Linked DNA regions of Homo sapiens: region 2 is linked to region 1. A link means that fine-mapping ties the variant in region 1 to the expression of a gene that starts in the linked region. Tissue or cell type: whole blood. Region 1 holds a variant in brackets; the other region holds the start of a gene. All regions are shown on one strand. Distances are between the middles of the regions. Region 1 overlaps SLF2 (SMC5/6 complex localization factor 2). Region 2 holds the start of SEMA4G (semaphorin 4G).

Region 1 (16,069 bases):
ATACTGCCCAGGCTGGCCTTGAACCCCTGGCCTCAAGCGATCCTCCTGCTTCCTGTACTTTGGGAGGCCTAGGTGGAAGGATTGCTTGAGCTCAGGAGTTTGAGACCAGCCAGAGCCACATATCGAGACCTTGGCTCTACTACAAATAAATAAATAAATAAATAACCAGTCATGGTGGCATGTGCCTGTTCTCCTAGCTACTTAGGAGGCTAAGGTGGGAGGCTCGCTTGAGCCCAGGAGATCAAGGTTGCAGTGAGTTTGATCACACCATTGCACTCCAGCCTGGGTGACAGAGCGAGACCTTGTCTCAAAAATACAGTGTTCTAATATAATATTCTTGAATTATTGATATAAACGTAAATCAGCATTTTGAAAACTGACTTCATTTTTATGATATTTTTACATGTTTATGATACAAATGCCCTTAATTTTTATGACAAAAACCTTAAGATCTTTAAATATTTTATTATAGACATTAGGATTTACCTCCAAATATGGGTGCTTGCCTTATTCAATCTAGAAATCTGTGTTTAAATGTTAGGAAGAATGCCTTCACATTCTTTACTGTCCCCAACACTTAATTAATTTTATCTCATTGTGCTCATAGGAAAATGGACATCTCTCAAGAAAAAGATCCTCTTCTGATTCATGGGAACCTACTTCAGGTAGAATCAAAATTAAATTTATGGATTTCTAAATAAATTTCCATTTTAATGGCACTGCTTTTTAAAATAAATTTGTTTAAATATGCAGTTCCCTTCTTGGGGATGAATTAAGTGTCTCATATTAATTAAGAGTTTGGTAAGATCATATTAAAAAAGACTAGTCCCTGAATCTAGTACTTATAATTTGGGTTTGTTTTTGAGACAGGGTCTTACTCTGTCACCCAGGCTGGGATGCAGTGGCATGATCACGACTCAACTGCAAGCCTTGACCTCCTGGCCTCGAATGATTCTCCCACCTCAGCTTCCTGAGTAGCTGGGACTACAGATGTGGGCAACTATGCCTGGTTAATTTCTTGTATTTTTGTAGAGACGAGGTTTCGCCACGTTGCCCAGGCTGGTCTCAAACTCCTGAGCTCATGAGCCACCACACCTGACCTAGTGCATATAATTTGTAATCTGTCTTGAATCTCTGCCCTCTTCAGGAGTTCCTAACAGTATGTTTCTCATACTGGTATTCAGTGTTTCCTTCTGAATCCTTGGCTACATCAGGAAACATAATCTTTTTTTTTTTTTTTTTTTTTTTTTTTTTGAGACAGAGTCTCGCTCTGTCGCCCAGGCTGGAGTGCAGTGGTGTAATTTGGCTCATTGCAAGCTCCGCCTCCCGGGTTCACACCATTCTCCTGCCTCAGCCTCCCAAATATCTGGGACTACAGGCGCCCACCACCATGCCCGACTAATTTTTTGTATTTTTAGTGGAGACGGGGTTTCACCACGTTAGCCAGGATGGTCTCGATCTCCTGACCTCGTGATCTGCCCACCTCGGCCTCCCAAAGTGCTGGGATTACAGGCATGAGCCACTGCACCGGGCCCCCAGGAAACATAATCTTATTATCTTGGAATTGTAGACTGAGTTGTTGGTATTATGTTGAAGATGCTTTGTATAGGGTTGAGACTGTTACCATGATAAAAAGCAGTGTTCTCTAATATTTCAAATCCAAGGATCCCTTTTTAATATTAAATTTCAAGGATATCTACATGACATTAGTTTGTACTTTTAGCATTTATTGATTGAAAAAAATATAAAATAACAAATCTGTTAATTCAGTACATTTTATCTTTTTTTAAAACTAGAAAATAGAAGATTAAAAAGGCAAACACTGCAGAAGTTTGCAACAAGAAATGAAAGGTCTCCACAACTAACAACAGTTAATAGTCTAGTGTATCCGATTTTTTTCCTGATGTGACTATACATTTTGAAAAACAAATTCCCACATTCAGTAAGATACATTGGACACGATAATAATAGCTGGCTTTCATTGAGTACTTACTGTGTGCTATGCCATTTTATGTGCTTCTAATTCGTTTGAACCTCATAACTTTATATGATAGTGGTTTACTTTTAGAGATGGAAAAGCCAAAGTACAGAGAGTCAGTTCTAATTCCTCCTTCAGGTTTCATCTACTTCATTTTATTTATATTTTAGAGGTGCATTGCATTTTGACCAAGAACTCTCAACTGGTAAAATCAATCTTCAGCCAAGGCTGAAACCATATTTTACCATTATAGAAGGAACTTCTAGGATACAGGAATAAATCTAAAGTTTTGTGTGTTTTTTGTTTATTTAATTTTTATAATGTTGCTGATTTTATGACCAAATTTTAGTGAATTTTGACATTATTGTAGAAGAACAGGAATTTCTCAGCCAGGAGATTGCTTCTGCACTCACTGTATTGCACATTTTTAATACTAAATACATGATCACCTTGCACCAAAGTTAATGGAAGAACAAAATATTATTTTATATAAGGGGCTGCTGCTGGTGGTGTGGCTACCACATTATTCCTTTTCTTTTTTCTCTGACTTAAGATTTGAAAAAATCTTTTCATTTCCTGGATTTGCAAATTTCATTCATGGTGGCTAAAGTAGTTTCATTTATATAATCCCACCTAGCAAAGTTTTTGAGTACTGCTTGGAAAAGATGCTTTCTACATATTTTCAGAGGCTGACTTATGATGGTTGCCGTCACTTATATTTTTATTACCAATATTTTTGCATGTGTTTCATAATCACTAATAATTATAGCATTATACTCTTAATAAATATACATTTATACTTCAATTGACTAACATCAACAGAATTTCAACATGTAAAGGACAAGGGGATATTTCAATCTAGATAGCATGAAGAATGCTTATTGTGTCTGATAGCAAAATTATTAAAAATCTAAGCCAGGCGCAGTGGTTCATGCCTGTAATCCCAGCACTTTGGGAGGCCAAGGCAGATGGATCACCTGAGGTCAGGAGTTCGAGACCAGCCTGGCCAACATGGTGAGACCTCGTCTCTACTAAAATTACAAAAATTAGCTGGGCATGGTGCCCAAGCCTGTAATCCCAGCTACTCAGGAGGCCAAGGCAGGAAAATTGCTTGAACCTGGAAGGTGGAGGTTGCAGTGAGCTGAGATGGTGCCACTGCACTCCAGCCTGGGTGTCAGAGCAGGACTCAATCTCGAAAAAAATAAATAAATAAAAATAAAAATCCAAATGATATGTCTTGTTCATCTTGTTAATACACTTAATCAATTGTCATGGTAATGTACATAATCACGCAATCATTAATCACATACAAGTTCAGGGATTTCAGAAGTAATGTTAGACTAGGCATTTAGCCCTTTGGTCTTCTAGAGCCCTGTCTTTTGGCTGAATTGTGAGGGGAAATTTAATCCATTGCTAGTACATTTCGTAACTGATTAATAACCAATCACCTATTAATGGCCTTTGGATTTTTCCTTTTTCTTGAGATGGAGTCTCACTGTCTCCTAGGCTGGAGTGCAGTGGTGAGATTGTAGCTCACTTGCAGCACTGAACTCCTGGGCTGAAGCAATCCTCCTGCCTCAGCCTCCCAAAGTGCTGGGATTACGGGCGTGAGCCACCATGCCCAGCCTCCTTTTTTTCTTTTTACAAACTCAATCTCTCTCTTATATGAATATTTTATGTATTAGTATATTTGAAATATTTGAAAAACTGTAAAACAAATATTCTCTACAGGCTGACAAAGGATACAAAAAGAATTATGAACATTTTGCAATTAATCACCTGACCTGAAGAGCTTGCTAAAGGGGATCCTACCTGCAGTACCAATTCACTTTTCTCTAATTCTAGATGATGAAACCCCTTAATAAGCTGACTTATCCTAAACATCTTCCACAAACAGTGTTTGTCTCCTCCTGGATCAACCCTGAATAATGCCTGAGCAAAGCAGGAATTTCTCCTCATTTCTAGCTATATTTAAATTATCTGACTTCTCTAGAAAAATGGAACAAAACTCAAACTGGCAGCTCTGTAGCTCATTTTTTGTAATCCCATACTTAAAAGTAAGATAATGAGCCAAATCTTCTCTTTTGTTTAGTCATTTAATTTCTCATCCTGTTACCCCTGTCCTTTTTGTAAGACATTTAACCCCAGAAAACTGAATAGGATGGAATGATTTCCTCAGGTAATGGGAGATATCTGTAAAAGAGCAGAGATAAGGGCATTTGTTAATTAGTTAATTTAATTTTTATAAATTGAATTTTTCAGATTATATATTGATCAAGCTATCCAAATAATAATTGCCTCTCAAGTTTGGTTTTGGCGGGTTTATTTTATTTTATTTACTCATTTTGATTCAAGGTCTTACTCTGGTGCCCAGGCTGGAGTGCAATGGCACAATTACAGCTCACTGTAGCCTCACGGGGCTCAAGCAGTCCTCCCACCTGAGCCTCCAAGTAGGTGGGACTACAGGCACATGCCACTGCACCCGGCTAATTTTTGTATTTTTTGTAGAGACTATTTCACCATGTTGCCTAGGCTGGTCTCAAACTCCTGAGCCCAAGTGATCCTCCCAAAGTGCTGGGATTACAGGCATGAGCCACTAGACATGGCCAAAAGATAAGAAATTTTCTAACTAGAGAAGGGATTGACGGGGTTGTACTTTTCGCAGAGGCAGGGTTTCACCTGAGCTCACGAACTCCCACCTTGGCCTCCCAAAGTTGTGGTATTACAGGCATGAGCCACTGTGCCCAGCCATTTTAGGTTTTTAAAGCAACTCTTGGGGAATGGAGACATCTGTCCATGTGCAGAAAATTTGATTTAGGGAAATCTGGTTTGGGGAATACTGATTGCACAAATAGTGAATTTTTTGTGTTTTTTTTTGTTGTTGTTTTGTTTTTTTGAGTTGAAGTCTTGCTTTGGTACCTAGGCTGGTCTTGAACTCCTGGGCTCAAGTTATCTTCCCACCTCAGCCTCCTGAGTAGCTGGGACTATATAGGCACACACCACTGCACCAGGTTAAAGTGAATTTTTTTTTTTTTTTTTGAAACGGAGTCTTGCTCTGTTGCCCAGACTGGCGTGCAGTGGTGCCGTCTTGGCTCAGTGCAACCACCACCTCCCAGGTTCAAGCGATTCTCCTGTCTTGGCCTCCCAAGTAGCTGGGAGTACAGGCACGCACCACCATGCCTGGCTAATTTTTGTATTTTCAGTAGAGACAGGGTTTCACCATGTTGGCCAGGCTGGTCTCAAACTCCTGACCTCAAGTGATCTGCCCACTCCGGCCTCCCAAAATGCTGGGATTACAGGTGTGACCCACCGCACTCAGCCCACAATATGAATTTTTAAAAACTGGTTCATTCAAATGTATGTGGTTATTAAAGTACTTCTGGATGGGGCTATAATAAATATAGCTTATATTAGTTTCCTAGGGCTGCCATAACAAAGTGCCAAAACCAGGGTGGCTTAAAACAACAGGAATTATTGTTTCACAGTTCTGGAAGCTAGAAGTTTGAAATCAGGATATCAATAGGGCCGTAATGTCTCTGGCAACTCTAGGGGAGAATACTTCCTTACCTCGTCTAGCTTCTGGTGTTTGCCTGCAATCTTTGGCATTTCTTGACTTACAGCTGCATCACTCCAGTCACATAGCATCTTTTCCTTGTGTATTTTCACCTTGTATTCCCTCTGTGCATGTCTGTCTTTGTCTCCAAAGACAAAGACACCTTTTGTAAGTACACCAGTCATACTGCATTGGGACACAGCGTGATTTTTTTTTTTTTAATGAGAAATTAACATTTATCTGCCTTCAAGTGTTTATCCTATACGTGTTTTAAGGTACTATACATTTAAATGTAGAAGTGTTACATTTCTGCAACCAGGTAGTCCTAGGTCTAAAAGAATTTCCAGAAGTACCTATGGCATCCTTAACTTGGTACAAATATGCAGTTGTTTGTTTTAGGGAGTGGCATCTTTAATTCTGTTAAGGTGGTAAACTTTTCATAGCTTTGGAATGAAAATGAGCATTTGTCATTAGCTTTAAATTTCTTGGACACCAGTATTTATCCAGTTGATAAGTAACTCTTTTTCTGCATTCCATATATGGTGACTAATCTCAGCCTTAATACTTAGAATTTTAAACCTTTCATTAGGGTGTTCTAGACACTGAATAAACTTTACTAAAGTTGGAAAGTATATTTTTCACTAATCTAACAAAAATTAAATTTTAGCAGGCTCTAAGCAGAATAAATTCCCTGAAAAAAGAAAAAGGAACTCTGTGGACTCAGATCTGAAAAGCACAAGAGAATCTATGATACCAAAAGCAAGAGAGTCCTTCCTTGAGAAGCGTCCTGATGGACCACATCAGAAAGAAAAATTTATAAAACATATTGCACTGAAGACACCTGGTGATGTGTTGCGCTTAGAAGATATATCCAAGGAACCGAGTGATGAAACTGATGGCTCTTCTGCAGGCTTGGCACCTTCAAATTCTGGCAATTCTGGCCACCATTCTACCAGGAATAGTGACCAAATCCAAGTGGCAGGTACCAAGGAGACTAAGATGCAGAAACCCCACTTACCTTTATCTCAGGAAAAGTCTGCAATTAAAAAAGCTAGCAACCTTCAGAAAAATAAAACCGCTAGCTCCACGACAAAGGAGAAGGAGACAAAACTACCTTTACTTTCCCGTGTTCCAAGTGCTGGTTCCTCTCTAGTACCATTAAATGCTAAAAATTGTGCTCTTCCAGTTTCTAAAAAAGATAAAGAGCGTTCCTCATCTAAAGAATGTTCTGGGCATTCTACAGAATCCACCAAACACAAGGAACACAAAGCAAAGACTAATAAGGCCGATTCTAATGTATCTTCAGGGAAAATTTCTGGGGGACCTTTGCGCTCAGAATATGGCACTCCTACAAAGTCTCCCCCTGCTGCTTTGGAAGTTGTGCCATGTATCCCAAGCCCTGCAGCACCTTCAGATAAAGCCCCTTCAGAAGGAGAGAGTTCAGGAAATTCCAATGCAGGTAGCAGTGCACTGAAAAGAAAACTAAGGGGTGATTTTGATAGTGATGAAGAAAGTTTAGGTTACAACCTAGACAGTGATGAGGAAGAGGAAACATTAAAGTCACTGGAAGAAATAATGGCTTTGAACTTCAATCAGACTCCTGCAGCTACAGGAAAGCCTCCTGCTCTTTCCAAGGGGCTTAGATCTCAGTCATCAGACTATACAGTAAGTAGTTCTGTGACGTTTATCTTTACTTGAAGAGGGAAAGATGATTAATTAGTGAAAGGGGTGGATTATCGGAACTTACTTTAAAATTTAGTATTTATTATAACTCATATTTGTACTGAAAATGGAATAATTCTTGTTTGGTAAATGAGTTTCCATATCTTTAGTTTTATTACTGTAAGTCAGTGGTCTCCAAACTCTTTTGATCACACACACTTAACAATTTTTGAGCATGTACCCCAACATATATGTATACCTTTAGATTATATATATGTACCACTGTAATACTGTGTACTTTCTAAAGCATATGCAAAAACAGAATTTAAAAGGAAGAAGAAGAGAAAAATAAGTATTTTCCTGTAGAAGTGACGTAGAAGTTACTATAGACTAAGTTCTACTGGAGTCTCTATAGAAGTTCCATATAAATAGAAGTTCTATTATTTTCTTCCTGCACCCCAATGGATCACCTTGCACACCCCCTGCTTTGGAGACCACATCTGTAAATGAAGGTAGAGTGTAGAAATGTTGTTGATTGTGGTGTGCAATTTTATTTATAAAGTGCTTCATTCTATCTTGGGAATAAGCTGAATTAAATTCTAAGATGTCTGTAAAATTTGGTGGGGAAGGTGTTAATATTCCATGGTAACACCTAAAAATTAGTAGTTTGATTCTACTAAAATAGAATTTAAAAGTAAAGACAGGGTAGCCACAGAGTCCTTGAGTGTTTGCAGTCACATCTCAAAGTTAGCAGGGTTTTATAAGTACTGCCTTTCCTAATAGGTAGTAAAATCAAATTGTCTGCAGTGCAAAATACTAGATTTAAAGCATGATGGTGAAAATTATCCTTTAAGAAAGGTGTTATCCTGGCCCAGATTATTGAAATAGAAAATAGTCTTTCGTACCCTTAATTACTTAAAACATCCCAGTTCTTCTACTAAGACATGTGGTAAAGTATTTCTAAATGTTCTTGTTTTAGGGACATGTTCATCCTGGAACTTACACAAATACCTTAGAACGTCTAGTGAAGGAAATGGAAGACACACAAAGGTTTGTTAGCATAAAGATTAATTTGCTAAATTTAACATTTTGCTTGTTTGTGTGGCTTACTTTTAATTTACCTTTTTTAAAAAATCATGAGAAATTAGCGTGCATTTTGGACTCTGTTGTCAACTGTGTTAGAATAAGATATGTTGGCCGGACGCAGTGGCTCATGCCTGTAATCACAACACTTTGGGAGACCCAGGCAAGATTACTTGAGCCCAGGAGTTCAAGGCTGCGGTGAGTCGTGATGGCGCCACTTCACTGCAGCCTGGGTGGCAGAGTGAGACCCAGTCTCAAATGAAAAAAAGAGGCCAGGTGTGATGGCTCATGCCTGTAATCCAGTACTTTAGGAGGCCAAAGCAGGCAAATCTCTTGAGCCCAGGAGTTTGAGACTAGCCTGGGCAACATGGTGAAACCCCATCTCTACAAAAAATACAAAAATTAGCCAGTCATGGTGCCACATACCTATGGTCCCAGCTACTCAACAGGCTGAGGTTGGGAGGATCACCTGAGCCCAAGGAGGTCAAGGCTGTAGTGAGCTGTGATTGAGCCACTGCACTCCAATCTGGGTGACAGAATAAGACCCCGTCTCAAAAAAAAAAAAAGTGGGGGGCCAGGCGCAGTGGCTCACGCCTGTAATCCCAGCACTTTGGGAGGCCGAGGCAGGTGGATCATGAGGTCAGGAGATCGAGACCATGCTGGCTAACATGGTGAAACCCCATCTCTACTAAAAAATAAAAAAAAAAATTAGCTGGGTGTCGTGGCGGGCGCTTGTAGTCCCAGCTCCTGGGGAGGCTGAGGCAGGAGAATGGCGTGAACCCGGAAGTC[G/A]GAGGTGGCAGTGAGCCGAGATTGCGCCACTGCACTCTAGCCTGGGCAACAGAGCAAGACTCCATCTCAAAAAAAAAAAAAAGGGAATAAGATGGGTTCTCTTGTTCATAGACTGGATCAAAAGATCCAGGTTTTTATAGTATACTGCACTAACTAATAATATAAATTCCTTTCTGTTTATTACAACTAGTATCTGATAGCTGAAATTCTAGATCGAAAGCATGGGTAGAATTTTTTGTGTTTTTTTAATGGAAAATACATATAAAATTTACCATTTTAACCATTTTTACATGTACAGTTCAGTGGCATTAAGTAAATTTATATGTTGTGCAACCATTATCACCATCTAGCTACAGAACTTTTTCATCTTTCCAAACTGAAACTCCATACCCTTTAAACAATAACTCCCCATTTTCCTCTTCCTCCCACCCTCAGCAACTACCCTTCTACTTTGTCTCTATGAAATTGACTGTGTTTTAGTTATCTCATGTAAGTGGTATTATATTTGTCCTTTTACGACTGTTTATTTCATTCAGGGCAGTGTCTTCAGAGTTCATTCATATAGTAGCATGTGTCAGAATTTCCGTTCTTTATAAAGCTGATTATTCCATTGTATTATGTATATAACACATTTTCTTTAGTCATCTGTCAGTGGACCTTTGGATTGCTTCCACTTTTTGGCTACTGTGAATAATGCTGCTATGAACATGGGTATACAAATATCTCTTCAAGTCTCTCCTTTAGATTCTGTTGGGCATATACACGTAAGTGGACTTACTGGATTATATGGTAATTCCGTTTAATTTTTTGAGGAACCGCCACACTGTTTTCCACAATGGCTGCACCATTGCACATTTGCACCAACAATTAATAAGGGTTCCAGTTTCTCCACATCTTTGCCAACACATTATTTTATCTTTGTTTTTTGTTTGTTTTGATAATAGCCATCCTAACAGTAAAGTGGTATCTCCTTATTGTTTGGTTTGCCTTCCCTAATGACTAATGATGTTAACATATTTTCATGTGCTTATTGGCCATTTGTTATACAAATGGAGAAATGTCTTTTCAGATTCTTTGCCTGTTTTTAATTGGCTTGTTTGGTGGGTGGGGCGGTTCACACAGGTAGAATTTTCTGAAATATTTCTATCAAGTTACTCTTTTGAGGAAAAAGTTTAGAATTATGATGAACACCCCCCCCCCCCCCCACACACACACACACACACACACGAGAGAGAGACAGAGAGAGAGAGAGAGAGAGAGAGAAAAGTTGAGGATCATAATGATCTTAATGAAATTTATGTGACTAATTATGGACAGGTTTTGCTAATAAGAGGGGAAAAATATATTCCTTGTTAATTCAAGGAGTGTCCTTGAACCTAGCCTGGAGAACTTCACTAACAGCTCAGCTGACTTGATTACATGGAAGTTGGTATGTGCTACATATCTCAAACTTGATAACCAAGTAGCTAACTTTAGGAATTTTTCAGATGATTAGTAGTTCAAAAGCTTCCCCCTTTCTGAATTTAATTAGAGAACTTGTCTGTATTTAAAATTCTTTAAATATTTCATGAATTCTTGTGATCTGTGATATGAAATCTGAAGTTCCTCCTTTAAAATTGAGCACTTCACAAATGAAAGACAGTAGTACTAGTTTAATTGAATGATTGACCCTTTTCTATAATGATAGAACAGTACATTTACTAGTTATTTACTCCTCAGCTGTACTTATCCACTGTTTGTGGCTGGGGTAAGGACCTTGTTTAAAATAACTTAATCTTGGAGAGGCAGTATAAGCAAGGACTCTAGAGCTAGACTCTCTCGCTATGAATCCCACATCCTTGCATTACAAGCTCTTGCAAGTTACTTTGCTTTTCTAATGTTGGTTTTCTTATCTATAAAATGCGTTATAAACTACTACATGGAGTTGTTGTAAGGGTTAAAAGAGTTAATATATAAAGCCCTTAGTGCAGTGCCTGTCACATATTAAGTGCTCGGTAAATGTTAGGTGTTGTGATGATGATGACAGTGACAACTACTGCTGCTAGAAAGCCTAGTTAACTTATCAGGTTGTTGGGCATCTAGAACCCAGTGAACTTTAAAGAGTAGAGAGGATAATCAAATTAGTGATGTTTATTCTTTGCCATTTTTCCTTTCCCATTCTGTGAGTGGTTTGGACAGATCATTCTTGAAGTTCTAGCTTTATGGAAATCCTCAAGTCTTTTATGCAGTGGAACACTATTCTAATGCCACACTGGTAACTGGGTAAAAGCCTAGCACCTGAAATATATCTGTTTTCATGAAAATTGTACGTCGTGATGTATTTGGGAGACATAATTTGACCGATAGTATAACAAAATTTGTTATATACCAGGGTACTTAATAAGGGTTTTCTTTGTGCTGCTTTTAGATATAAACTAAAGACTTTTTAAAAATATTTTTAGAGTAAACTGTTATAACATTCTTTCCAATTCTCAGGCTAGATGAACTGCAGAAGCAACTACAAGAAGACATAAGGCAAGGCCGAGGCATTAAATCCCCAATCAGAATTGGAGAAGAAGACAGTACAGATGATGAGGATGGCCTCTTAGAAGAGCACAAGTATAGCATTTTTCATAATGTATTTTACCTTATTAAAGTTTTTACATTTTTTAGTTTTGTTTTTGTAAAATAAATGGGCCATTGATGGCTGTTAGTGAATAATTTATGATAGGTTTCTGTCTGTAATGGGTTTGAAAGGCAAATGTTAGGGCCAGGTTTCATCTTTTATCTTTTCTCCTGGTTATTGTTTCTTTTCACATAGACACATTTAGTGGCTTTTGACTAACAACTACAAAAAGTGGAAGAAGCAAAGCATACTTTTCTCATGCTAGTCTTCTAATTTGGGATTAACATTGGCTTAAAAAATGGTTTTCTTTGCACCCAGCTTTTAAATACAAAACTATATGTAGTGTAACAATTTGGTATTGATTGACTTTTTTTATGTTTCAGGGAATTTCTAAAGAAATTTTCAGTTACAATTGATGCTATTCCTGATCATCATCCAGGTGAAGAAATATTTAATTTCCTCAATTCTGGAAAAATTTTCAATCAGTATACCTTGGATTTAAGAGACTCTGGTTTTATTGGACAAAGTGCTGTAGAAAAACTTATTCTTAAGTAAGTAGAAAAATAGACATTTTACTTTTATATGTATAAAAAATTACTCTAAAACACTTCTGACTCACGTAATCTTCTAAAAGGTTAATTTCTATTATGACCTATTAAGTTTCCTAATCCTCTTATTACTATTGATCTTTATGTTTTCTTCTTTAATTATAGGAAGCAGTGTAGGATAGTTGTTTGACACATCTCATGCCTTTATTAATTATGATTAAGATCAGTGTATAATAACAGTGATTGTCAAAATAATAGTGGTTTAAACAAGAAGTATATTTGAAAGAAGTATAAAAGCAGGAAGTCCAGGGCTGGAGTGCCAGTTTTACCATATAATCTTTCTTCTCCACCATTCTTAGCACCTAGCTTCGGGTGCTGTTCTAGCTCCAGCCTTTAGTTCAAATTCCCAGAAATTCCACACAGCATTCCCACACACTAAGTTAGTTGAATAGAAAACTTAGTCAATATGACCACACTTGGCCACAAGGGAAGCCAGAGAGTGATGTTTATTTCAGGCAGCCAGTGTTTGCAGCTACAGATCAGGGTTCAGTTACCAAGAAGAAAGGCAAAAATAGATGCTGGGATGTGCAACTAGTAATCTCCACCACAGTGCCCAAACTGATCTAATTTCTCTCAGTGCATGATATCTCAGCTCTAGAGAGATCACATCAGTTCTGCTGCCAATTTTTTAAAGTACTTCCCCAGTCTGAGACTTGATAGGCTCTTTCTCAACACTACCAGCAAATGTAGCTTTGTCTGCCAGTTAAATGTGGAGCCTAGCCAACAGATTGGATCAGCTTTAGGCCATCAATTAAATTTATTTTATGAGTAACTCATCCATATTGGTATAGAGTCCACCTCTATGGACTGAAGACAGTTTGCTTGCTCATTTCTCTGATTATGTCAGATGTGTTGGTGGTGATAGTAGAAGTATTTTGCCATGAAGTTAATAGCCATGTTGATTTTACTTTATTTTTTCAGATCGGGAAAAACAGATCAGATTTTTTTGACAACACAAGGTTTCCTTACGTCTGCTTATCACTATGTCCAGTGTCCTGTCCCTGTGTTAAAGTGGCTGTTTCGGGTAAGAGGAATGTTTAGAGGGTTATAGTTGCCTCCTACTATATTTCTAAGTCAAAAGCTTTTAAACATAATTTTATTTGCACATTACTGCAGAAAAAATTAATGTAGCACATCCATGATGTCAGTGGCTTAGAATGTAGCAAAAAGAGTCAATATAAAGAGATTATGAAGAAAGGGATAATGTAGATAGTTGTACAGGACAGTCAGTGTTAGTTGTGCCTGAACCCTTCACCACAGTGATAAATCACTATTATAGTTAGTTTTAGAAGGGATCTTCTAATGCTTACATACCTAAATTTCTTTTTAACCTTTTTTCATGTTTATGGTGGTACCTATATACATTTTCAGAATTTTAATTGTATGCTAATATTTCCCCATTCGTATATATGGTTTTTTTTTTGGATGCAAATCCAACCAAGTGTTTCTTTTCCCCATTCATATTTAACGCTTAAATCCACTTAAATAATTATCTTAAATTTAAGATATGATAATTCCAGAAAGTTAACTCAATTGGTAACTTTTTAAATATCAGTGGTATCATTGATGCTTATGTATGGAGTTCTGGTGTTACTCTAGATACTTCGGACCTTCATGCAGATAAATGTAGAAGTTTCTTACTCTTGACATTTGTATCAGCCAGGAGTGGTGGCTCATGCCTGCAATCCCAGCACTTTGGGAGGCCGAGGCAGGTGGATCATGAGGTCAGGAGCTGGAGATCAGCCTAGCCAACATGGTGAAACCCTGTCTCTACTAAAAATACAAAAATTAGCCAGGTGTGGTGGTGGGCACTTGTAATCCCAGCTACTCAGGAGGCTGAGGCTGGAGAATTGCTTGAACCCAGGAGGTGGAGTTTACAGTGAGCCAAGATTGCTCCATTGTACTGCAGCCTGGGGGACAGAGTGAGACTCTGTCTCAAAAAAAAAAAAGACATTTATATGGGAGGGCATGGATGGGGCTTTTTCCAGTATAAAAGCTTCTGTATCAACAAGTACTATAGTAACTACTCAGTTAGATTGGAATTATGCTTCTTTCAAAGACGAGAACGATTATGAATGACAAGTTATTCTTCGCAGTGGCTCATGCCTGTAATTCTAGCACTTTGGGATACCAAGGCAGGAGGATTACTTGAGACCAGGAGTTTGAGATCAGCCTGGGCAACATAGCAAGACCACATCTGTTTAAAAAAAAAAAAATTATTCTCAGGTTACTGAGTGTTCCACTTTAATAAAATCCTAAATGTGTGAAAAATATACATTCAGGAAAAAGGAATCGTAGTATAAAAGAGTCCTTTATAATATGTGAGTATTGGCCCCAGAAATCCTATAACAAAAAGGAAAAAAGTATCAATGGTGTCAGAGAACTACAGCTATTATATATAAAGTGAAAAGTGGGAAAAACATGGAGTTTCTACTCTGGGTTTTATGATAGCATTTCAAGAAATCTCGTATTTGGTGAGAACTGGAGAGATATTCCAGTACAGACTTTCGTTCATTGTTTTATATAGTTGGCATTTTGAGTGCCAGCTGTGCCAGGCACTGGAGAGAACAGCAATGAAAAAATCAGTGTCTCTGATCTCATGAAGCCCACATGCTAATGTAGAGGAGACAAACAATAAGTGTGTGTGTGTGTGTGTGTGTGTGTGTGCGCGCGCGCGCGCGCGCACATTTGTAAATGTATTGTGTCAGATGATAAGTGCTATGAAGAAAACGTAGGGTAAGGTAGATACAGAGAGTACCGGGGTGAGAGAGAAAGTTTGCTTTTTTAAAGTGTAAAGTAGTTGAAGGTCTTGCGGTTAAGGTAAGATCCAAGTAAAGGAGTAGCTTGTCAATGTCACTCCTAAAGTGTTCCCTCACTGCCTCCACTAAAGATACGTGGACACATGCTCCAGATAAGGTCTGTCTTACCAGCAGTTTTCAGTGAGACTCTTGCCCATCTGAAGAAACCTACAAATTTCTACTTATTATAGTTCAAAACTAATCATGCCACTGTACTCCAGCCTGGGGAACAGAGAAAGACCCCATATCAAAAAAACAAACAAAAAATTTCCTTTACTGTTATGCCAGGGCTTCATTATTCTCTAATTGTGTATATCATTTCTTAAACCTCCAAGTAAGACTTTGCATTTATCTATGTTAATTTGCCTCTTGTTGATGTGGGCCCATTGTTATAGCCATTCAAACCCTAATTATGACATACAAGCATACCTTCATTTAAGCAGTTTTTTAATACATTTCATATTTATTTTCTGAAAACCAGACTAATCATTCATTAAACACTTTCCCTGTGTAAGACACTGTCTCATTTCTCCTTTTTTGATTCCAAGTCCGTTTTCATCGTGGGAGGCTTTACCAACTTGTAAGTAGTTTTTAGAAATTATGTCAATTCATTTTAATGCTATACTCCTAACCAGTATTTTGTAAGTTTAATGTTAAAATGTAATTAAAATCCTTGCATTTTTGTGATTTTATCATGAGTGTCTAAATGTAGTAGACCAGAAAAAGGTTAGTACTTTTTTTTTTTAACAATTTTCAAAAGGAATTCAGGTTTGATTATGAAAAGTTCAAGTAAAATGGAAAGGAGATTAAAATTTATTTATTTATTTGTTTGTTTGTTTATTTTTGAGAGAGAGTCTCACTTGGTCACCCAGGCTGGAGTGCAGTGGCGTGATCTCTGCTCACTACAACCTCCGCCTCCTAGGTTCAAGCAATTCTCCTGCTCAGCCTCTCAAGTAGCTGGGATTACAGGCCTGTGCCACCACACCTGGCTAA
Region 2 (16,069 bases), 40 kb after region 1:
TTAATTAGCTGCAAAGGTTAGTCATTTGAACAATGCCCATTCAGATTTAACATATGTATTTATTTTAGTAAATTTAAGTTAAATACAAAAATAAGCAACTAATGAAGTTATCAGATTTCTGATTTTCAAATACATGTAGGGGATAGCTCTTTCCCCAAGAGTAGAACTCTAGTTTCAGAAGCACATTCTTTTGAGCATTCATTGACCAGAATTGCTGGCCTGTAGAACTTGGTAGTGGCTACTACTGACAGCCATGCTAAAAGGGGACCACCCAAGTTTTATGTTTCTTAAAGACAAGGGCTTGGCACAGATTGTTGCCAGTGCTTCTCTTACTTAAAGTGGAAAGCGACACAGTGGTCTGTGGAAATTGCTTCAAGGGATGGTCCTGCTGAAATAGATGAGTTGCCTGCCTCTCCAAAAGCCTCTATTATAGAAAAGTTGGTGATTGTTTTGGAGAAATTTGAACTGTAGATGAAGAAAAAAGCATAGATTGTAGTTTACTTTATAAATTTAAAGCTGCTATAAAATTCCTGACTTGTTGAAAACATGTTTCTCAAGCAGTTATGTTCAATAGCTAATTGAGAATCTCTAGAGTGATAGAGTTTGGGTTTTGTGTTACAGTTTCAGTTGTGCACAGACACTTGCTAAACCTCCAAATGTAGGAAAATACGAGGTATTTAAAGGGGATTCGTAGTACTTGGGCACAAGCATGGAGAGGAGTAACAGTGAATTTTGGATCTTCTAATAATGTGGAGAGGGACAAATAAACGTTTTTTTTATGGCTTTGATCCTTTCAAAGGGAAGCTGGGAAGGGAAGGCACAGAACAGCCAAAGCCTTGGGCCCTGTTGACACAGACCACCCTTCAGCTTCTCTATCTGGTTGTTCAAAAGCCAGCGAGTTAAAGTTAAGTTCCTTTGAAGGCAGAGAATGTGTTTTTGGGGATGATCTTCAATAACAGGAAAATTAAATCATAAGCATTCAATAGTTTAGATTATGATGATAAAGGGAGTCTTATTAATTTCTATGATTTGAAATCTCCTTCAAAAGATGAGTAGTTTATTTTCTCTTTGTTGACAGAAATCAAATTGAGTTGTTGAGTGTGGGCCTGTTGCAGCTGTCAGATATTTTGTGTAGTGTTAAGCTGATTGTAGGTGAGAATGTTTTAATCTGATCCCTTTTCCTGTTTTTGATATTTTTAAGGTGAAAGACTTGGTCGCCAGGATACATGGAAAATGGCAGGAAATAATCCAGAACTGTCGGCCTACTCAGGTGTCATTTTGTTATACAATTTCATGTATTCTTAATAGTTTTGCTGAATGGCACTCTTCATACTGTTTGAAATAAAATAGGGTATAACAGTGCACTTGCTTCTAGTTATCTTAAGATAAACTGAAAACGCCAGTATAATACATGGTTTGTAATTTTTTTAGTTTTCGTTTGCTTTATATTCATTAATTTATTTCCAGAAGTGGTTGAGCCCATTTAAAAATATTGCATTGCATCAAATGGAGGTTATTCAATTAAGAGCATTTTTAAGACAGATCTATTGAGATAGAATTCACATACCATAGATTTTACCCACTTAACGTGTACAGTGGTTTTTATTACATTGACAGAGTGAATAACATCACCATAGTCTAATTTTAGAACATTTTCATCACCCCAAAAAGAAATCCCATACCCATTAGCAGTCATTCATTCCCCTTTCCTCTACTACCTTGGTTCCCCTCCTGACTCCTCCCAAATCCTAGGCAAACACTAATCTACTTTCTGTCCCTATACATTTCCCTATTCTGGACATCGGTAAATGAGATATACTATGTAATCTTTTGTAATTGGCTGTTTTCAGTTAATATAATAATAAGTGAATCCATGTTATAGCATGTACATCCCTTCTATTGCCAAATAATTTTCCACTGTATGGATATGTCACATTTATTTATCTACTTATCAGACATTTGTATTGTTTTCACATTCTGGCTATTACAAATAATATTTCCATGAACATTTGTATGCAAGTTTTTATGTGAATATGTGTTCTCAAATGAAACATTTGAAAAGGAAGTCAAATTGCTGGGCCATATGGTAATTCTATGTTAAGTGTTTTAAGAAACTACCAGACTGTTTTCCAAAGTGACTGCATCATTTTATATTCCCACCAGAATGTCTGAGGTTTCTAATTTCTCCATATTCTCACCAACACTTGTTTTTACTAAAGCCATAGTAGGGAGTAGGGAAGTAGAATCTCATTGTGGTTTTAGTTTGCATTTCCCTAATGATTAATGGTGTTAAACATCTTCTCATATGCCTATTGGTCATTTGTATAGCTTTTTTGCAGAAATGTCTATTCAGATCCTTTGCCCATTTTTTTCATCCCATACTTCATTTCAAAAAGCCTATTTTTGAATATAGTTATTTGTCTTTTTATTATTGAGTTGTATGTTCTGGATACAAATCCCTTATTAGAGATATAATTTGTAAATATTTTCTTCCATTCTGTGTGTTGCCTTTCCTTTATTTTTATTTATTATGTATATATTTTTGACACTTTTTTTTGATGTTATATCTAAGGAGTCTTTGCCTAAGAGGGACATTTTTTTTAACACCTGCTAGTAAGTGTGCCAGCCTGCTTGTTTACAGAGTAACTGGCATAGGATTGTCTAAAATGACGCTTCTCAAATTTTAATGTACATAGGAATCAACTAGGAACTTGGTGAAATATGGATTCTGACTCATAGGTCTGGAGTGAGAACTGAGATATTCTGTACTTCTTTTTTTTTTTTTTTTTTTTTTTTTTTTTGAGACGGAGTCTTGCTCTGTCACCCAGCCTGGAGTGCAGTGGTGCAATCTCGGCTCACTGCAAGCTCTGCCTCCTGGGTTCACGCCATTCTCCTGCCTCAGCCTCCTCAGTAGCTGGGATTACAGGCGCCTGCCACCACACCTGGCTAATTTTTTTGTATTTTTTAGTAGAGACAGGTTTCACCGTGTTAGCCAGGATGGTCTGGATCTCCTGACCTCGTGATCCGCCCGCCTCGGCCTGCCAGAGTGCTGGGATTACAGGCATGAGCCACCGCGCCTGGCTGATATTCTGTAGTTCTAGCAAGTTATCAGATTGATGCCAATGCTGCTGCTTCAGGGACTAAACTTTGAGTAGCCAGGGCCTAGAAGTTGCTTATATTTTATATCAAAATAATAGGAACACTGAATGTTAAGTAGATAAAGCAATCTCTCTATTTTAAGTCTTTGAGAAATCTTATATTTATGTTTTGTTGTTTTTGTATTTGTTTCTAACCTTAATAGATTTTCTTTTAATGCTGGTCATGTACTGATGTGGTATTAAAACAGAAAATAATTTAATAGCAAAACTATACTAATCAGCTTAACATTATTTAATCTGCTTAACTAAGCCCCTCCATGTGTGCAGTGGTGAGAAAAACATCCTGCACTTATTTTTTACTGTTTTTTGTTGTTTGACTACTGAATGTGAAATTTGAATCTGATTACCATAAATTTTCAGAGAAGTCAATATAAAGATTTTATTACTTGTCTTATCAAAGCCCATTGTCTGATGATTAGTAGTTTTATAAGGATTAATTCATAATATGATTAAATTTTGCTTTACCCTCTTTTTTCTCCTTCCCTTTTTTAGGGGCAGCTTCATGACTTCTGGGTACCAGATTCTTAATAGGAGTTGCAGCAGCAAAAATATGAACCAAGAGAAATTCAATAAGAGCCTTTCATAGAGGAGTAGAAAGGATTATTACAGAATCCAATGAATGCCAAGAAAATGTACAGCAAATGTGCCACTTGAATATCTAGTATGAAGCTGGTAATGAAGAAATTGCCATTTCTGAAGCAGATATGAAATATGATCTGCTTAATTGTTAAGGCAACTGACCTTTCAAAAGTGCAGAGTCTTATTAAAAGAGGGGAGGGGTAGAAGCAGAATAATAGTCATATGTCTAACCTGCCCCAGTTAACTCCTCTTGTTAAATTATAAGCCAGTTATCTTTTTTAGATAGTATTTTTGTCACTTGGATAATCACAGGAAATATATAAGAAAAGAGCTTGGACTAACTTGAGAAGTTGGACATGGAAAGCAAGACCAAGTTCCAGTTGGGTTTAATTTTCCCTCTTGGTTATTTTCGGACACAAAGGGAATGCTTAAAACTGAGTTTAGTAATAAAAAGCATAAATCTCTTCTGTAACTTTTATAAACCACAGGGAGGTTTCAATCCATGCATTTTCCTTCATTACTCAAGATTATAAATCTGTTTTTAAAATACATCTAAACAAACAGTTGAGAAACAAAAGTTTGGCATGTTGTCAGATCCCCTTAAGAGGAAGAGGTTAAGCTGTAAAGTAGTGGCCCTGTTTTGATGCCAGAACATTCATATGCTGTTTGTTCTGGATTTCTTTTAAATGCATGTATTTTAAATACTGGTTAAATCTTAGAATCTTGGCTATATCTTAGAATTCTGGCTCTTGGTAACCATATTACAGAAGTCTATATTGTAAAAGCCTAAAGATCTGGACAAGTTTCCAACAACCTTGTTTCCATGAGTATATAATTTTGGCAGACACCTGAATTCTTTGGGACACTGTGTCTGTGTATGTGTGTGTGTGTGTGTGTGTGTGTGTGCGCTTGTATCTTGAAGTTGTTGCACTTCAAAACCACAGCTGCTGTAAATTCTTAAACACTGGAGAGCCATCCTTTGGTTTAAATGGTAGAGGGTTAGTGGAAGTGCACACGTTGTTTTTAGCCCAGGGGTAGTAACAAACTCTTACTAGCCAACTAGAAAATTATTTTGTTGACGAGATGTCCCTTTTAGGAGGGTTTGTTTCCTGAAAGAATGCCAACTTTTTTTGTTGTTCTTTCAGTATTGGCTTGAGTGACCTGTTCTCCTGAGTGCTCTAGTGTCTCCAGTTGTGGGGGGGAAAGATGATGGAGGGGAACAGAAACTGGACTTGATGTTTGCGGTTTGAGAGGCAAGAAAATAAAATAACTTTCTACCTCTAAATTGAGGCTTAGGAGTAAAAAGCATTTTGTCCTAAATTTATCATTTAAAATAGCATCAGTAACTTTTGAGCTCATGTCAATCAAGCATTGGCAGTCAGAGATTTTATAGGGAAGACTAAGTAAATCCAGTTTCCAAGAACCTAAACTGATTGAGGCTCCAAGAGTCAGACCAACAAAAGTTTTATTCTGTGTTGTTTACTGGTAAGAATATTATTATCTTGATACTACCTCTCAAGGGTATTGTTACAAAATGCCACTTATGGTTAAAGAGATAGATACAAAGAGTTCTATTTGACAGAAGCTTGAAACTCTGGCATCTATCTGCCCAACGATGGGGGCTTTCGTTCTGTAATTTAATCCTTTGTAGATACATTATTTGTGTGTAATTTTATACGTGTTCATATTTTTCTCATTTTGCATTGTGTAAAGTGTACAAAATCTCAAAGTATAAAATACTGCTTATATTGCTTGTAATTTACAGTGTGTAAATATTTTCTAATTGTGTACATTGATGGGGGGGACAAGTGGGTTATTCAGGTTTTTTTTTAATGACCCTTTTGTATTGCAGTTTCAACAGATAACTGTCCATCAAATTTAAAACCACTTTGATACATTTTTATTTAACAGTTCCAATAAGAAAAAAATCTCTATTTTTAATTATATTTCTCCTTTAGAAAAAAAATACTTCATGGTCCCTCTAAAATAAATGGCCAGACCTCAGTTTAGGCCCTTGTATTTATGACTCTGGTAGAGGTCTTCAGACTCCAGGTCATAGTCCAGTCAGTATTTGCATTTGGGTTCTCATGAAAACTTTGTGACTCTCTTTTAGCACAAGTAGCCCATGGTTTTTCTTCCAAATCAAGTATTTTACTTCTCCCTTGAGTCCCCATGCTTTGTCTCCCTCCTGCTGCTATTGCCCGGTGAATGGGATGGTAGAGAGGGAGAAATGTTCATTGCACAGAGAATGTCAGGCCACTTTGGGGACTTGGCAAACGAAGCTTGCACTGAGTGGTGGTGTGTTTGGCAATATTACTGTGCCAAAAATCACCTTGTCTAATTTTATGGATATGTATGGCAAACTTATTACCCTTCTTGCAAGCTGCACATTAAGGTACTTGTAAGTGTTTATGCTTTTGTGTGTAACTGTTTGCCTTTTCTAACTGCTTTTCTTGTTACTGAAAATATAATTCTACTAGTTTTATCACATTAAGAGGCTCTCCATGCACAAAATGCATTGATGTAGCCGTAAAGTAACAGCATTTGTACATTTTCTATCTCCTGATGGCAGTGGTGCCTTTGTCACCTTTTGGAAGGTTTGCATTTTGTTTCTGCTTTCAAGCGCAAATAGTAGCTTGCTTTCAGCTTCACAAAAATCTCCTCAAATGTAAAAGATACAAAATGGCGTGTTATCATCCAGGCTTAGTTGGAGTATTTGCATTTTTATTTTTATCAAAACAAATATAATTGGTGGGGACTGGCCAGTAATAATGTGTGGCGTCTTTAAGCCAAGAGTAATTTTTAAATTAAAAATGAAAATTTTAAGAGGTAGCCCATTAAACAAGCTACTGAGTTGGAGAATTAGGGGATGACTGTGGTGGTTTGTCGCTAAGGAGGCAACAGTAGGGTCCAGGCGGCGGGGCACGTAGAGCAGTTAGCATGATCCATGGTTATTCCTTACTCATGAACAGTGTCGGCGCACCTCATTATCTGTGCATTTGTTTTTCCTGGGCAGTCCTGTCAGCCAGTTAATCCACCAGCTCTTAGGAAGTAAATACAGATTTTTTTCTTTCCTTTTTTTTTTTTTTAAAGATTTTATACTACATCTTGTTAAAGTCCTATGAATGTGTGTGTGTGTGTGCTATTAAAACTGCTTTTTCTCAGTTTGAACATGTGTTTGGTAATATTTGTTTGGGAGTTGGGGAGGCTAAGTTATCTGGAATGCCCTGTTCCCTCAGCCCACCCCAGTCCCCTGGCTTTTAAACATTTCTTCTTGCTTTGGATTGTCCAGTTTTTTAGCTTGATGTCTCCTGTTTCTGGAAAACATAAAGCCACCATTGTACACAGTTCACTTTTATATAACCCAGTTAATTGCTGTATACTTTGCAATCAGGAATTCAGTAATCTCATTCTTACCTCATTCACTATGTTCATTCCACCATTCATTCTAACAATTGAGTCTCAACTACATACTAGGCACTCTTTTTAGGATTCAGTAAGGATTTGATGGTGAACAACATAGAGAACTCATGAATCTTACCTCCTGGTATCCAGGTTAAAATACTTTCTGTTCTTGGGCAAAGAGAATTAGAAACAAATACCCTTAACCTGACTCCCTTGTTCTTGAGCCCAGGACCAAGAAAGAAGAAGCTGTACAATGCAGAAGCAGGGCTTGAGATCACCTCCAACCTGCCAAGCAGATAGAGATCTGGGTATGCCAACTTGGGAGGCAGAGGTTGAAACCTCATAGGAGGAACTTTGGAGCTCATAGAAGGCCTTGGCATTGTCAGAGGCCTTGAGTTCCAAAACCATGCCAGTATTTCTGCCTTCTGACAGGCTGGCTAGAAAGAGACTAAATGGGAGCATTTTTCTCTGACAGTGGGGCGGAGGGATGAGGGGATGACAGCCCAGGAAGAAGCAGAGACATTGCCGTAAGTACTTACTAGAGGGCAGGCAGCACAGCTTTATGCAAGTTAAGGGCCTTGACCTTGCCCCAAGGCCTGACCTCAGATCCCAGATTCATCATACTAGCCTTTTGATCTTTGCCAAATTACTTAAACTCACTGTTTCCTCATCTGTTGAATAATGGTGTCTACCTCAGGGTTTGTGAGGACTAAGCGAGCTAATGCATGAAAAGTGCCTAGTACAGTGCCTGGCATATAGCAAGAACTCAGCAAATGCTTGCTGCTCTAACGAGGCGTTTCTCTGATGACAGATTTGATCTTAAGCAGACACCTCAGGGTGTACTGACATCTGAGCAAACCATATCTCCAAAAATTATAGTTGTAAGTGTGCCCTATTTCTTTGGATACCGGGAGCTGGAGCTTCTCTGTCCAGCTATCTCTGCTGATTTTTTTTAATTAAAATTTTCACTTTTTAAAAGCCAGCATGCTAAAGCTGAGAAATTGGTGATGGGTGGTGGTTTTCCAGCATTTGTGGGAATGTCCTGACACTCCCTTTCCCTTACTAACCATTCCCTAGGCTGGAGTCAAGAGAGGGCAAACCAGAAGGCCCAGCTTTGGGTCTGACTCCAAGACGACTGGCTGGGAGGAAAACTAAACAGGCTTCTGAGGCACAGTGGAATAGTGAGACTTCCGCATTGTTGCACTGGTGACAGCCCCTACAGAAGAAGCACCTCAGCTGTATATATAGCCAAAATAAAGACCACACCACCTAAAGGGAAAGTGCTGGGCAAACCAGAGATGGAGATGGCAAAGCAGGAACAGAAATGCTGCCACATTGAACAGTAAGCAGGACAACTTGACTAGGCCAGAGTTCTCTTGCTTCAGGGAACCTGCTCAAGTTTCAGGAATTCATACCCACCCCCTTCACCTAGGATCCCTGCTACAGTAAGTAACTGTTCTGTGCAAAGTGGAGCTAAACTCTGGTGTGTAAGTGGCTGACAATCACTGCTGAAGACGGCCAGCACTACCCTCAGCCACTTTCTTACAGCAAAGTTGGGGAAAATAGACTAGCAAAAACAAAACTCATACTTTTCTGTGTGTGTGAAGTTCTCCAGAAGGTTTCCAAATGGAATCCTCTCACAGCCACCCTGCGAAGCAGCCAGGGTAGTGACCTTATGGATGAGTGACAGCCTGTTCAAAGAATGACCTGCCTGTGTCCCAGGATGCAGATTTATGGCTGGGTTAGGGTTAATTTCTTTAGTTGATTTCCAGTTTTCTTTTCCACTGTCTGTCAGTATTCCCCCGTTCTTATTTTACCAGCTGGATTTGCAGAGAGACATACTGTCAATCAAAAGGGCTTCCTATGGGCAGCTCCATTAATTGCTTTTACATCTGATACTCTCATTAGGTTTAGAGATTTTACTGGGAGGCTAGCAGAAGGAAATGGATTGTGGTCTGCTATCAAAAGTACTGAAGTAACTGCCCAGTGATCATTGAAATCACACATTTTGCTCATTTAACAATGTCTGAGTTTGCCATCAGCACCTCAGAGGAGCAAAGCTTGGTTCATAAAGTGAAGTTGAGTGATACTGAGCCTACCACACTGGCCTACTCGCCACCTCCAGAGCTATCTGAAGTCAGCACTGCAGGTTCTGTGAACATTTGGGAAGCTGTGCCTCTTAGCCCCCTGGGCCCCTACAGTTTAATTGCTCTCCTATCTGCTACTGAAGGACCAGCAGTCTTCCTACCCTGCCTCCACTGTTACCACCAACCCACTTTTTGATAAGGACTGCAGATTTATCTTTCTTAGCCCTGCCTTGACTGGTCTTCCCACCTCAGACGTCCTTACTCAGTCCATCATCTCTTTCAGGATTTTCTTCTGTGGTCTTTTTCAAACTACTAGCTGACTTTTCCCTTTTATTTCCCACTAGGAACCCCTCCCCGCCCCCCCCCCCCCCCCAGCCATTTCATCAAATCAAACTCACTGCCCTCTTTCATGCCCCTTCCTTAGTTCCCCAACACAAGCCTGTGCATAAGCTTGAACATTTCTACCTTTGCCAATGGTATTTCCCCTTCTGGCTTACCCTGCTTCCTCCTTCTCAGACTTTTCCAGTCTTGATTGTCCTCTCCATAAACACAAGAATGAACTTCAAGGCAAGTTACTTAATGTCTTAGAGCCTGTTTCCCCATCCATAAAATGGGGCTATAAATTCCTCAGGATGGGATGAGGGTACAAATAAAAAATGAAGCAGGATATTCTTTGTAAAAGTGTGTGTACATTTTTTATTGTGTTTCTCCCCAGCTACCTTCCCTCTCCCCGCCACACACATCCTATTTGCAGAGTGTTGGGGGAGGTGGAACTGTGATGTGGGCCCTGCTGTCTAGCAGTCTGCAGTCACACACAGCCATCCAAACTACGAGATTGTATATGATTCAGTGCCAAACTGTGAGCTTTGGGGAATCCAGAAAGAAGGATGAAGCCTTTCCCAAGTTTCCTTTAGTTAAATGTGCCACTTGAATCCTGTTCTGACTCCTAGGCACATGCAAGAGTCAATCACATATGTTCCTGTGGCCTTTATCATTTTGGTCCATCTCTTGAGCCCACATGAATACTGTCATGGATGGAGGAGGAAGGACCAGGCTGGGTCAGGGCCTGAATGCAGGTTTTGTTTGGACTATAGGGGCTAAGTTCACTTTAATAGGCTGTGACCTATTAAAGGAGGCAGGAACCAAGTTTGCACAGAAGGACCATCCTAGTTGAGTTAAAGGAGTTGGGGAGTTGATTGTGAGGGGTTTCCTAGATTGCTGCTGGGTAAGGTGATTGAATCTGGGAAGGATAGGGTACTTGATTGCCTAGAAGGGTGCACTCTAAGTTCTGGATAAGAATGGTGCCCAAGATGAGCTGGAGGGGAAGGCAAGTGTTTGAATGACCCAGTCCCTGAGGTGAGCCTAGGTTAGGGTTAAGATTTGGTGAGTGAACAGGTGCAAACGCTTGTGGCTTATTTATCCAGAAAAAGCATTTTCTGTGTGCCTTTCAGGTCAGGCTGTTACTTTATCCCCTTCAGGCCTGACCCCATCTCCCCCACGCATAGCTCAAGCTGAACAGCCCCTGAAGCTGGGAATCAAGCCCCTACCTTGTGTTCAGAGCTTCCCTAACGTCCAGTCGCCACCTAGGGTAGCCTTCCCTCCACACCCTAGGCCGAGAGCAGAAGCGGGTGGCAGGAGCACAGGGAGTGAGGTCCAGGTTAGAGGACAGGCCAGAAGGCCCTCCGAGAGGGTCCCCCAACCCCGCAACGCCAGGACAGGTTTGCACGTCCCCAGCAGTAGGCAAGTCAGGGGGGTCCTAGGGTTACAGCGGAGGAGAGGACGGGCTATAAGCATGTGGAGGGTGCACGGGGTGGCGAGGCCACCACCAGGGGGCGATTTCAGGGCCGCAGCGCCTAGAGGTGGGGGGTCGCCCGATGGCCGAAGGCTGTGTGTGAGCCTCGCCCTCAAACCGCCTCTATTGTGCTAGAGTAGGGGGCGCAAAGAAGAGAGTGGCGACCTTCCCCTCACCCCACCCAGTCGGCCCCGCCTTTCAGGACCCCGCCCCACCCCCGGCTCCGCCTCCACCACCCCCCCCCCGCCCCGCCTCCAGCCGCGGCCCCTTCCTCTCGCAGCTGGTGCTGTGGGGCCGCGGAGCCGCGCGTCGCTGTCTCTATGGCCCCGGATCCGAGCGCAAAGGTGAGCAAGGCGAGGAGTGCGGGCGGCGCCCTGGCGTGAGCCTGGGGCTGCGGGCCGGGGGTCGGGCAAGGCCTCCCCCACGTCCATTCTACCCTCCAAGCTGGGCCAGGCCTTTCTCACCACCAAGTCCCCCGGTCCTGCATGACGGCTCTAGAGGGGCGCGGGCCAGGCCTCGGGCTGCGCGGGGTGCAAACCGGCCACCACGGAGTCGGGGACCAGCGCGGGGAGGGGGCCGCGTGGCGAACAGTGTTCCCCAGGATCTGGGTCACGTCTCCCGGCGTCCGGCGGGATCGAAGGAGAGCTTGTCCTCGAGCTGCAGCAGTAGAGACTGAGGTTAGACCTGACGAAGGGAGAGGACCGCGGACTGTCCAGGATGTTGGAGGGAGGGGGTCCCGGGGGAGGGGCTCTCTCAAGCCAGGAGAGACCGCCATCCTACTAGGCAGAGGGAAATACCGCCTACACTAGGCAGGTGGACATCTGGGATGAAGGTCGAGAGCCTGCTGATCCTCCATTGATCCTGTTTGAAGGGTCTCTCCTCCCCAGTTCCCTCCACCCCAAGATCTAATAGAGGAAAGGTGATCAGAGTTCAGGGGGCTGGCCCTGGGGAAGAACCCGAACTGTGGAACTTGGGGTGGAGTGTGGGGCGTGGACTGGAGACCTTAAACCCGTACTTCGCCACTGAAGGGAGGGGTGATATGCTCCGCCCCGCCCACTTAGCCCCGCCCCCTCCCACAGGTTAAGTGGGGGCTGAGAGCTCCAGCCCGTCTCCCACCTTTAGAACCGCAATATACATAGGGGTGGAGGAGTACTAAATTATGCGTTCCATTCCATCTTTGCTGAAGCTAGGGGCCTCCTCCTGCCTGAGTTACTTTCCCATTCCCTCCCTTGTAGAGCGGCCTTGACTCATGCACCCATCCCATCTGCCCATCCAAGGTCAGAAGCCTCCCCCATCACCACACACACACACACACACAACCCCCTCACCACCCCCACACACAAACACACACTTGAAATTGGGCCTTAGAATTGGGACTTTCAGGAACAGAGGCAGGGTTCTGCTCTGCATCTCACCCCAGTGGACACTGGCAGCCTCCAAGCCTATGGCAAAAACTGGACCCCTGTATGCATGTGTGCTTGTCTCTGCATGGATGTAGTTGTGTGTTCAAGAACTGCGTGTGAGCACACATGTACTTGACCCTTCTGTGAACATGATTGCCTGGCCCACTATATCAATGGGTTTGTGTGCATGTCCCTACACATACATGTGTATGTATAGGACCCTCCTGTTGAATAGGTGCACAGTCCTTGACACAAACCCACATGTGTGGGTTTATCTCTCCTCAATGTCTGAGGCTGTGTGACCTGCTGAATGGATGGGCATGTAAATTCAACGTCACATGTGAATATGTATGATTACCTGTGGCTGTGGCCCTCTGTATGAGCATATGTGTGCACAAAACTCCCTGTGAGTATATGTGTGAATGACCCCTGTGAATCCACGTGTTCACAGTCCTCCTTGTGAACATGTGTGTGTGTGTGTGTGTGCACCCATGTGCATGTATATCACCTTCCTAATAGTCACCCATGTGACTCTTAAACTATAAGTGTGACATGCACCACACTGAGTGGCTCCTCTAACCTGGGGCATGTTCCTCCTAGCCATAGTGCTCCCCACACACATGCCTTTTGCACTGAGCAAATAGGAGGTCCCAAAGGTAAACAGGTGTGCCTCCACAGGGAGGGGTGGGGCATGGCCGGCTTGCCTGAAGCTTCCTGCTGTCCCAGATCCCAAACAGGGAGCCTATGCCCTTTCAGGGTCAGGGAATCCTCTTCTCTCCCTTTCATATTTGACTCTACCCCTCAGGGCTCTGCCCCTGCAGTGCTGACCTTTACCTCTTGAATAATTGCTCCTGTTATCCCTCTGGCCAGTTCCTGATTCCTCCCCTCTTTCCAAGGCCAGATAGTTAATATTTGACCTGGGAGAGGAGGCACCAGTGGCACCCTCTGGCCCTGCCTGTGGGTGGCTGATGAGATGGAATGTATTAGGTCTCTCCACACCTCACCCAGCCCAGGAACTCTTCAAGGAACCCCTTGGTGATTAGGAGGCCTGTTACAGGGGTTGGGAGAGGCCTGCCACCCACCCCCATCCCATCCCCAACTGGTTGGCTTGAGGGAGGGTCCAAGATGTGTCGGGAGGGGCCAAGGGCTCAGGGATCCCATCATTTACCTTCTTCACGTTGCTTATGTCTCAACTGGCCTTGCACACTACAGCCTTCTGCACAGACATTATACCTGTGCAACCAGGGGGATCCTAGGTACCCACCCCAATGCCTGTGAATGCCTACTTGCAGATAGGGACACGTGTGGATGCCTAGCCAGAGGGTGCAATACAGACTGGCGTGGGCAGAGATGTGCACCCCCTTGGAGAGGAATACCAAGAAGTTATAATTAAAGAGAAATTCCAGAGGGAGCTCTCAGGCCAGGGAAAAGAAAAAACAAAGGGAAAGCAGGACAAAATAAACAAAGGTCCATTAAACCTCTCTGGTTAGGCCCTCCTGCATAAGGCACCCCCGCAGGCAGCAGGGGCAGCTGCTGACCGAGTTGCATCTCATTGTTGGGAGAAGCAGGCATTCTCTCCAAGAACCCCAGCTCCTTTGACTTGAGGGCCTAGTGGAGCTTCTGACTTGGCCAGAAGAGGGTCATGACCTTGGGTTTCGGGTTGTGGGCATCTAGGGTCTTGTAAGGAAGGTAAGTTCCACCCCAGCCTCCTGCATCAGAGCAAAGCGATAGACAGAATGATTGTGAGTCGATCCTGGCGTGGGCGTTCTGTGGATGCTGGGCCTCCTTCTTTCAGTGCCCCCTGAAGTCTGGGTAACGCCATCCATCTTCCACCCACATACAGATCAAAGGGCTTTTTTTTCCCCGTTTTTTCTTCAGAAAACGGACCTCAGAAAACCAGGACTAGCTCTACTGTCGGGGGCAGGGTGACCCCATCAGTAACCTACAACCCCTCTAGAACTTCACAACTCCCTCTCACCATGGAGTTTGCATTTGATGCAGAAAGGCATGTGATCCCTCCCTCCTTCTGACCTCTTAGCTGGGGATTCCATGGCCACACAACCCTGTGACTCCATGTCCCCCCGATTCCAGGACCCCCCATGGCCCCATGATTCCTTGACTCCTATGACCTTATGACCCCTGACCTTCCAAGTGACTTCCTTGGACTTTGACCCCTGTGACTGTGCTTCCCATTCCCCGCCCCCACAACCTGTGACTCTGGCTCCCTTTGGGGGTCTTGTTAGTCTGGGCCTCCCCAGGAAGATGTGGGGGAGGCTCTGGCCCCTCCTCCTCAGCATCCTCACAGCAACTGCAGTCCCAGGACCCTCACTGCGGAGACCGTCTAGAGAACTAGATGCCACCCCTCGGATGACCATACCCTATGAAGGTTAGACCCTCAACCTCAAAAGGCAGCAGAAGCCAGGGCTGGGGGTGGGGAGGCACCCCAGAACTAGGGCTCACTGTTCCTGCTCTCCCCAGAGCTCTCTGGGACCCGGCACTTCAAGGGCCAAGCCCAGAACTACTCAACACTGCTGCTGGAGGAGGCCTCAGCAAGGCTGCTGGTGGGAGCCCGAGGTGCCCTGTTCTCTCTCAGTGCCAACGACATAGGAGATGGGGCTCACAAAGAGGTCAGGCCCTGGAACCTGGACCACCCAGAGGGTCTCTATGCTTATCCAGCTCCCTGGGACCTCAACTTCCTTAAAACCCTGCCAGCCTTCCATAGCCCCCTGGTCAGACAGCACTGCCCTTCCCAGCCCAGGTGTTCCTTGCATTCAGTGTTCCTCCTGAAATTGATCCCCACCCCAATTTCCCCAACTCTGTGGGGTCCTATTGCCTGGTCCTATGAGTAATAGGTATTGGGGTCAGTGCATCAGCCTATTCCCTTTGCCTCCACTAGATCCACTGGGAAGCCTCCCCAGAGATGCAAAGCAAATGTCATCAAAAAGGGAAAAACAACCAGGTATGTGGTCTGCCCTGTCCCCAGCTCCTTTCCTCCCCTTCTTCCTCAATCAGGGATGCCAGGATTGTTGGGGACACAGATGGGTAGGTACAGACCTGCCAGTCAATCTCAGCAACCACAGTAAACATTGTAAGTATTGCCAGAGTGGCAAGCCATGGGCACAGCATTTTTTTTTTTTTCTTTTTTTGAGGTCGGATCTCACTCTGTCATCCAGGTTGGAGTACAGTGACATGATCATAGCTCCCTGTGGCCTTAAACTCCTGGGCTCAGGGGATCCTTCCACTTCAGCCTCCTGAGTAGCTAGGACCACGGGCACATGCCACGCCCAGCTAAGTGTTTTATTTTTTGTAGAAACAGGGTCTTGCTATGTTGCCCAGGCTGGTCTTGAACTCCTGGCCTCAAGCAGTCCCCCTACCTTAGCCTCCCAAAGTGCTGGGATTACAGATGTAAGCCATTGCCCCCGGCATCTGGGCACAGTACTTCTAATTCAACCATCTGGTGGCCTACTAGTTTGTCCCGCAGTGGCATCTTCATCTCCTCTGGGATCCCAAATAATCAAAATGGCAATAAGTAGGCTGAACGCGGTGGCTCACATCTGTAATCCCAACACTTTGGGAGGCTGAGGGTAGGAGGACAACTTGAGTCCAGGAGTTCAAGATCAGCCTTGGCAACACAGCGAGATCTGT

Evidence for each region. PIP is the estimated chance that this variant, and not a neighbour inherited with it, causes the effect. A credible set is the group of variants that fine-mapping cannot tell apart.
Region 2: it holds the start of SEMA4G, and the variant in region 1 is the best candidate, but not a certain one, in a credible set for the expression of SEMA4G in whole blood (TOPMed, PIP 0.72).

The regions. Positions count from the first base shown.
Region 1 is chr10:100,917,777-100,933,845 of GRCh38, forward strand. It overlaps SLF2 (SMC5/6 complex localization factor 2), which reads left to right. Exons shown (of 20, transcript NM_018121.4): 4 at 608-665; 5 at 6,199-7,196; 6 at 8,173-8,243; 7 at 11,541-11,663; 8 at 12,054-12,221; 9 at 13,200-13,302. Among named protein-coding and RNA genes, the nearest start is that of SLF2, 13 kb to the left of the region's middle. The variant G/A (reference allele first, on the strand shown) is at 9,066.
Region 2 is chr10:100,958,227-100,974,295 of GRCh38, forward strand. SEMA4G (semaphorin 4G) reads left to right here and starts at 11,278. Exons shown (of 15, transcript NM_017893.4): 1 at 11,278-11,365; 2 at 14,303-14,810; 3 at 14,903-15,051; 4 at 15,321-15,383. The coding sequence starts at 14,687. It overlaps SLF2 (SMC5/6 complex localization factor 2), which reads left to right. Exons shown (of 20, transcript NM_018121.4): 19 at 1,202-1,270; 20 at 3,651-6,908. The coding sequence ends at 3,686. RefSeq lists silencers at 7,606-7,900, 11,235-11,294.